2 linked regions of the Homo sapiens genome follow. The protein of the gene in region 2 purifies or fractionates together with the protein of the main gene of each other region. This does not show direct contact. Each region holds a gene or a part of one and is shown on either strand. Other genes may lie near its edges.

Region 1 (3,526 bases), on a different chromosome or scaffold from region 2:
ATTGTCAATATCCTTTAAGATAAGAGAGATACTGGTATACTGGTTTTGTGTAGTTATGTAAATTTATTTACTACTAGAATAATAATTCTCTGCTTAAAAAAACTTTTTAATCCAAAGATTATTATATATCTATCTATAAATCATTTATTTTACCTGGGAGAAAATGCTTAATCAAGAAAATTGCAATAAATAATGATGGGTTTAAAACAGAAACCACTATCATTCACCACGTTGACTGATGCTTTTCAGATCTAGATCTTTAGACTTGTGAGAAAATTTCTGTAATGTTCACACTTCTGTAGGGAGTTTTAACTGTCATTCAGAGAGACAGTTATAGAGGAATCATTTATGAATTAGAGTAATAAATACGATTAGCTGAATTCTGTGGCATTTTTTTCAAGCATTTTCCATTTGCAACTCAAATATATGGTTACTCCCAGAAATTCCACTTTTAGGTATATACCCATGAGAATTGAAACACAAAAACTTGCACACAAATGTTCACAGCAGCATTATTTATAATAGCCAAAAAAGTAGAAATAAGCCAAATGCCCATAATTAATGAAAAGATAAACAAATTGTGGTATATCCATATGACGTGCCACACAAAAAATAAAGTACTGATACGTGATACAACATAGATGAACCTTGAAAACATTAAGCTAAATGAAAGAGGCCAGACCAAAAAAAAAAAAAGCCATATATTGTTTGAGTCTATTTATGTGAAATGTCCAGAACAGACAAATCCATACAGATGAAAAGTAGATGGTAGTGTTTTCAGGGGCTGGAGGAAGGGAAGAATGGGAAGTAACTGCTAATGGATTTAGGATTTCTTTTTGGGGTGATGAAAATATTCTGGAATTAGAAAGTGATGATGATTGTACCACTTTGTAAATATCACTAAAAACCACTGAATTATATATTTTAAGGGTAAACTTTATGGCATGTAAATTATATCTCAATAAAGTAATAAAGAATATGGCTATTATAACCTATTTATATTGGATTTCTAAAAGAATATTTCATATTCTACTAAAAGGCGATAGGATCCAGTATATATATATATAATCCTGAAAACTATTTTATAACCAAAAATTTTGCTTCAAAACATCATTCTCACTATAGTTATAAAACAGAAAACAAAACTAAATTTTTAAAACATAAATATATTTAAAAAATTAAAACACCTAAGAAATGCAATCTATACATGTGAAAAAGTAAAATATTTATATGCATAACAAGTAGTTGCAACATTATCCATAAGCAGCAGTTAGTGTTTATTTTCCCTATATTTTGGTTTAACACCATAGTGTAGTGGTAGTTCATTCTTTTTAGGGAAATTACATAAAGTACATATAGAATATTATTAGTAAGTTATAGAAGACTGTATAACTGGAAAATTAATTCCAAGTAACAGCATTTCCTCTAAAAACACATCTATTATTAAACGAATTACTTTAAACTAGCAGAGAACAAAATGAGCCTATAATTTATTAAGTACAAGATATATAGTCAACTTGCATAAAATTACATATGGCATTTTAAAAAGTCTATTCTAAAATATCAGTAATTCAAGCAATTGGGATTTCCACAGGAGAGAAATTGCCATTACTTTCCTTTTTATGAAGAAAGATCTGCCTTAAGAACATCACAACGATGTTATTAAGAAATGCTACAGCATACTTTAAAAATCAAAATGGTGAAACAGATGCATCAGGATATTCTTTTACAGATACCAGCCCTATAGCAGCATTTCAGAAGGTGATTTAAATCTAATAACTGACTTGGGTTTTTATTCTCTTCTAGAAATACATATTACATGTATAGTTTAGTTAAGAATTTTCATTTCCATTATAAATGGGAACTTTTCATACTGATTATCTAAAGGTATAAGAAATTAAGTAATTGGATAGTCTAGCACTTCATTAGAAATATATCCACTGACTCCACAAAAACAACTTTTACATATAAGCAAATTACTAAAAATATCTGAATCAGGAGAAATGAAATAAAATACAGTGAATGGTTTTCTCTTTTATCTCTAACTGTAAAAATCCCTTTTGCCTATTTATTTGACCCGTCTCTATTCATGCAATTTAATGAACCCTCAAAAGAATTTACACATCTTTATACAGAATTCACATCTACATCAGTAAACTACCAGTCCTTTTATATTTTCAGTGCCTTATCAAAATATGTGTAACAAAGTTCTTCATTCTATGAGGCAGGAAGATGTTTCCTAAGTACTTCTTTGGATGAAGAAGATATAGTATCTGGGAAGGACACCTCAAATTCTATTAGAAGGTCACCACGTTGGTCAGGATTTTTTGGAAATGGCAGCCCATATCCAATAATTCTTCTCCTCATTCCGGGTTTCACAATATCATTTACTGACATAGGTATGTTTCTTCCATCCAGTGTTGGTACATTAATTGAGCAGCCACACAATGCCTAAAATGGACCAAATAAAATAAAATGAAAACACTTCAAAACTCAAAAATCTAAGCACAAATTTTACCAGATGGTAAAGGATAATACCACTAAGGTAAAACTTTAACCTCCAAAAGAATAACAATAGTTATAAATTTTTTTTCCTCATTAGAAAATTCCTTCAGAGGTCAGGCACGGTGGCTCACACCTGTAATCTCAACATTTTGGGAGGCCAAGGCGGGCAGATCACCTGAGGTCAGGAGTTCAAGACCAGCCTCACCAACATGGAGAAATCTTGTCTCTACTAAAAATACAAAATTAGGCGAGCGTGGTGGCACATGCCTGTAATCCCAGCTACTCGGGAAGCTGAGGCAGGAGAATCACTTGAACTCAGCAGGCGGAGGTTGCAGTGAGCCGAGATCGTGCCATTGCACTCCAGCCTGGGCAACAAGAGCAAAACTGTCTCAAAAAAAAAAAAAAAAAAGAAGAAAGAAAGAAAGAAAAAGAAAAAGAAAAGAAAAGAAAAAAAGGAAAATTCCTTCAGGACATGCATTATTAGATATGTTACAAAAAAAAAAAAAAAAGAAGAAGAAAAGAAAAGGTAAAAGAGAAGTAAAGGATATATTCCACATTGCCCTGGAATGACATGGTTATTTTGAAGCTGCTATTAATATATTCAAGATGCAGGGATTGGAATGGGAGAAGAGGGAGAAATTCAGGACTAGAAAGAACTGGATAGGAGCAACTATTTCTCTGGAAAGTATTAGGACAAGAAATATATTTGTTTTAGATAACAAATGTTTACTGAGCATTTACTATATGCCACACATTCTGGCTAGATGGTGAGCCTTATAGGGACCATGAACACAGACCCCAGCTCAAGGAATGCACAAGGAACTCACAGAAACATAGAAGCAAACTAGCCATTATAATACTGTATAGTGTAAGAACAGAGGTAAGCATGGAGGTCTTTTGTAAGAGAAAGAGCACCCAACTTAACCCCTTAGATTCCGGGAGTAGAGGATGCTTGAACTAAGCATTGGGCAGTAGCAGGTAGGTATTAGAGCAGGGTAAGAAACAATAGTGTTCCATAGAG
Region 2 (5,739 bases):
ACACAGTATATAAGTTGTTTTTGCTCATTCGTTAATGCATTCACTCCAATATTAGGCTGTAGTGTGCCCATATCTAGGGATTCATGAAATAAACATGAAATAAAATAGCATTAATCCTCAAGAATCTCAAGACTATCAAAAAGATTTTACATTTTTAAGGTTGATTCAAAACTATGTGCAGAAATTGCAGCCTTATTTGTGCTTTACACGAACTCAAAAGTTTAATACTAAAGGTACCTAGAGGAAATCCCTGCCCTTTTTGAGTATCTCTAGTAACAAGAATGGTTTTTAATTTTATCCTTTACTTAGGATGTTTACCTATTACACTTTATAATGATATTTCAAACTTCAAACTAAGAAATAAAAGGTAACCCAGTTTTCAAAACTCAAGCAGAGGTATAGGATGGATAAAGATGGACTTGTGACCTGATTGTGTACCTTTATAAAAATATGAGAGGAAATTATTTTGCACACTATTTTCTTTATACTTAATTATATTACAATAACAGTGTAACTAGCAGTTATAAAATTTTCTTTGTTCTCGTTAAATGCCTAAAACTCTAAGAGCAACACAACTATAAATTAAATCTGAACGATACACTATTCTTATAGCAGACAAAAGGGATTTCCCTCCTTTATTAAGTTCTTATTTTAGGACATACCAATTCGTATTCCTCGTAAGAGGCATAGCATTAAAAAAACAAAGATGAGTTTCCAGGCTCCCATTTCCAAAATTCTTATCAGTCTCCCTAGATGATTATAGCAAAGGAAAAAGTAACATGTACAATACGTCATCACATTTCCCAATTGAGTTCTTTTCCAAATGGTAATTTTATAAATTAAAGTAACTAAGTAAATCCATGATCAGCAAACAGTTGCTAGGTGATGAAGAATTTAAACAAAGCATGTAAATAATTTGGCAACTCAACCATGTAACTCAAACCTAGTAACAGGTAAAAAACTAAATATTCTAAGTTATAATGTGGGAGTATATGTATACTTATGTATATGTGTATACACACATTATACATGCATGGGTTGTTTTGGGGTTTTTTTTGTCATCTCTGCCAAGATCAGCCAAGAGGAAGAACGGTAATTCGTTTAAAAGTTAGGAACTGGGCATACCTTTAAAATTTCAACAGCATATTTCCTTTATATTGTATTACAGTAACTGCTCTATAAAACTGTTGTCTGAAGCCTAGGTAAGAATAAAGTCTATTTCGAGAACAGCATTTATCACTGCCCAAAAACAGTAAGGAAAATGTTGCAGATTACAAAAGATATTTAGCTTGGACTACAGCTGATAACTTTGAAAAATGTTTCTCAAATCTTTAAAGAGGTAGTAAGTTTTTCTTCAACTGTTAAATTATTGGACTTTTTTGCAAAAAGAATGTTATTTAAATTTTCTAAAATGAGAACTTTGAGTTTACGTTAAACATCTCTAAAATATTTAATAGTTTTAAAAATATACTACAGTGAGATGCATTTGTAAAATACAATTATCCAGAGTTAGACAAAAGTAAACATGAAACTTAAAGAGGGGAAGCCTGGACCATTATTAATCCTTTCCCACATGAAAAGTGCAGATATTAGCAGAATATTCACTAAGTAAAAGGAAAATATTACCTGGTTTCTAAGGCACACAGTTAGCTGTAAGATCTAAAGTGGGATTTATTTGCATTAAGCTTTCAGAATACTTGCTGCAACTCGGGTAGAAATAGGTAAGTATTCACATGATATGTAAGTCTGTAGTCCAGAAAGGTATTTCAACTAAAATATGTCAATTTTCACATCTGAAATCATTCAGACATTACTGATATAGTATTTGGAAGAGTTTCTGTATAGAAGATTTTTTTCAGGCTGACAGTACTTAGCGCTTTAGAGGGTCAGGTAAACCCAGTTCTCTTTTGTTCAGCAATGTCTCATTTCCACTACCTCAAACTTGGTCCCCAGTTCCACTATCCGAAGCCTGCTTTACATTATGTCGTACTTCATTGGTACCACATACAGTGATTACATTATAAAAGGCCTCTAGATCACTTTGTTCAAATTTAACAGATGGTTTCGGTAATGTTCCAGGAGCAAGGGAACTCTCTCCCATAATTTTCAGGTTGATAAATTTGATTTTCCAAGTATTCTCCACAAAAGGGCAGCGGATGAGTCCAAAAATTTGTTCAAAAATGCCCAAACAAGTGTTTCCTCGATGGACAGTCCCAGCAACTCCAACCATAACCAGCCCATGAGGAGAAGATGCACATTTCAGTCCATGTGAATCTAGGTTGGGGCTGAGAAAAAGAAATTCTTCTTTTACTAGTGACAGCAAACGAAGGCTCACGATTTCTGCTCCATGGTAGTCCATAACATTTTGTTCTGATGTGTTGTAATAAAACCTAAGCTTCACATCATGCCAGAAGTGCTGTGGTCCCCATTCATCTTGAGGTGGTCCTAGAAAAGGATTCTGAGAATTAAGAAGTCCAAAGAACCAATGACAGAATTCTTCTCCTAGGCGACGAAAATCAACTTTTTCAGCTTTTTTATCTTCTTTCACCTGCTGATTGAAACAAATAAAATAAATACAAAATAACACTAAGGTTTAACTTTCATATCTATTTTTCTATCTAGCCTATTAAGTTTGAATGAACCCATTACACCAGAGAGAAATGAACCATATGTGAACTTGCTGAACCCATTATGCATAGTAAAAATCTTTTTTCAAGAGGAGAAAAATCATTTTAGAAATTTCCAGCTTAAATTGCTGAAAATTCAGCTAAGAGAGTAAGGTTTAGTAAGGCCAATTTAAAAATCAGTATGAACTTGGCGGGCGTGGTGGCTCACGCCTGTAATCCCAGCACTTTGGGAGGAGGAGGCAGGCGGATGGTGAGGTCAGGAGTTTGAGACCAGCCTGGCCAATATAGTGAAACCCCGTCTCTACTAAAAATACAAAAATTAGCCGGGCATGGTGGCGTGTACCTGTATTCCCAGCTACTCAGGAGGCTGAGGCAGGAGAATCACTTGAACTTGGGAGGTGGAGGTTGCAGTGAGCCAAGATAGCATCACTGCACTCCAGCCCGCGCAACAGAGCGAGACTCCGTGTGAAAAAAAAAAAAAAATCAGTATGAACAGTCATATATAAAAATATATAAATTATATGATGATTTATGTAAGTGTTTCCTCAGATTGTGGCAGTGTTTTCACAGGTATATATGTATATCACAGGTATATATGTGAAAACCTTCAAAACGTTCACTTTAAATGGATGCATTTTGCATATAAATGACATAAAGTTAATATAAGCAAGCATTTTCATTGTCTTTAAATAGATACTCTTACGGTGATTGAAACAGGTTATTTTCTATAACTGGGATTAATTTTATTCTATTATTTCTCTTTTTTCACAGAAAATGTTACTGTAAGCTGGGCGTGGTGGTTCATGCCTGTAATCCCGGCACTTTGGGAGGCTGAGGCAGGCAGATCACTTGAGGTTAGGAGTTCAAGACCAGTCTTGACAACATGGTGAAACCCCGTCTCTACTAAAAACACAAAAATTAGCTGAGTGTAGTGGCGCATGCCTGTAATTCCAGCTACTTGGGAGGCTGAGGCAGGAGAAGTGCTTGAACCCAGAGGGTGGAGGCTGCAGTGAGCTGAGATCATGCCAACTGTACTCCAGCCTGGGTGACAGGGCAGACTTTGTCTCAAAAAAAAAAAAAAAAAGTTACTGTAAAAATCTACCTGATACACTAGATCTCATTCATCCATGTGTTCCACAACACAGTACTTTACTGAGATGTATGAGATCTTAGGTTTACTGAGCACCTGCTATTTAATACACTGGGCACTGTGCGTGGCACTGGTTATTTGCCTAATTTAACACACCTAGTATATTGCAGACCCTAATTTGAAGTCGTATTTGTATGATTTCAAAGTCAATGCTCTTATCAGTACATAAAGTAAGAAAGCTCTTAAAGATTCTTTCCTAGTGTGAAGGCAAAGCTTTCTCACTGTGAAACCTCATTAATTCAAAAAATGTGGTATGTAGTTTAAAAATCTGCAAATTACATAGAGGTTAATTCAAGCAACACTTAAATATTTGTGCAGTATCTAAAATGTACAGTGGAGATAATATAAAGAACAGAAACAGCCAATGTCCGCTGGAGAATATTTCTACAATAGGACTTTTTCTAGTTAAAAAAAAAAAAGTATAAAAAATATTTAGGTTCCAATGTGGGGGCGGGGGCATCAAGAAAAATAGCTAACGCATGCTGGGCTTCATACCTAGGTGATAGGTTGATAGGCGCAGCAAACCACCATGGCACATGTTTACCTATCTAACAAACCTGCACACGTACCCTGGAACTTAAAAGAAAATTTTTTTTAAAGTAAAATTTTAAGTTCCTTTCATGACATTTTTGCAATACCAAAAACGTCTTAAAAGTGAGAAAGAATTTGCAATAAAATTCTTCTAAAGTGAAAAAAAATTACACGGAGCTAAAGTTAAAATTAACCTTGCAGTTTACTCTCTAAAAATCCAATAGTCCTCATTTGATGATGCTGATATTGAAAAATACTTTCTCACATATCAATAGATGATTATATATGCATCACTATATGTCAGAAATATTTTTGCTCTTAGTTGCTTTACTGGTCTCTTCCTTCCTTCAGGATTGATAGGATATGAAATAAAGTTAAAATTATAAAATATAAAAAAAATAGGCTGGGCATGGTGGCTCATGCCTGTAATTCCAGCTGAGGCGGGAGGACCACTTGAGGTCAGGAGTTCAAGACCAGCCTGGGCAACATAGTTGGGACCCTATCCCTACCAAAAAATTTTAAAAATTAGCCAGGCATGGTGGTGCATGCCTGTAGCCCTAGCTACTCAGGAGACAGAGGTGGGCAGAACACTTGAGTCCAGAAGTTCAAGGCTGCAGTGAGCTATGATTACACCACTGCACTCCAGCCTGGGCAACAGAGCAAGAATCTCTTAAAAAATAAAAATAAAAAAACCCCACAAACATTATTAACCATGTTCCCCACAATCTAGGATTATCAACAAAGTTTCAGACAGAACAAAGGTTCAGAATACAACCATAAGATTTATTTTACCTGTTGAAATAGGTGGATGTCCTCTGTCTTTGTAACTGGCTCTGGCGTTTCCTTCAATTTCAGTTGTGGTTGCTTTTGCCAGTAATCTTTTGCATGCTGAATAAGATTGTGTTTTTCAGTAGCTGGAGGTATAACAATCCCCTGTGTTGCCAAGTACTTAAATATAACTTCTCGGTGGACTTTTCTACGCCTCAGAAGTTCTTCTGCACTTTGACTGTATGCTAATATTGCATGAACAGCATCTAGAAAGAAATTGCAAAGATTAATAAAAAATCATGAGGCACTTACAAATTTGTGCCAGGTGGGCAGAAACTCTATCAAATATGTTTATAAACTCTCGTCACAGCATTATTGCTGTTACATGATAGTCATCATTTTTAAAAAATAGGAAGTCCGTTGTCAGTTTTCTTTTAACATCTTTATGCCTTAAACTTCCCTTACCTAAAATCTCTTCTGTTCACTTCCCATAAGTGATAGTGAAAGTTTAGCATTTCCTCTTAAAGAATTACATTTTAAGAAAACATTTAAGTGAGAAAAAATATTTTTTCTAATAAGGCCAACAGTCCTAAATTCATGCACAACCTCTAAAAATAGGGACAATTACAACAATATTTTAGATGTCAAGGAATTTTAGTCATA

What was found. Proteins that work in one complex are often made in the same cells at the same time.
Region 1: the proteins of C3orf38 (region 2) and DNAJB4 purify together in Homo sapiens (affinity purification with mass spectrometry; 3 studies listed by BioGRID and IntAct, with this or other methods). This does not show direct contact.

The regions. Positions count from the first base shown.
Region 1 is NC_000001.11:78,014,939-78,018,464, reverse strand, and holds the end of DNAJB4 (dnaJ homolog subfamily B member 4), read right to left. Parts: intron 2,452-3,526; coding exon 2,218-2,451; 3' UTR 501-2,217; downstream 1-500. UniProt on the Homo sapiens protein: Probable chaperone. Stimulates ATP hydrolysis and the folding of unfolded proteins mediated by HSPA1A/B (in vitro).
Region 2 is NC_000003.12:88,152,833-88,158,571, reverse strand, and holds the end of C3orf38 (uncharacterized protein C3orf38), read right to left. Parts: intron 5,343-5,739; coding exon 5,101-5,342; intron 2,552-5,100; coding exon 1,937-2,551; 3' UTR 607-1,936; downstream 1-606.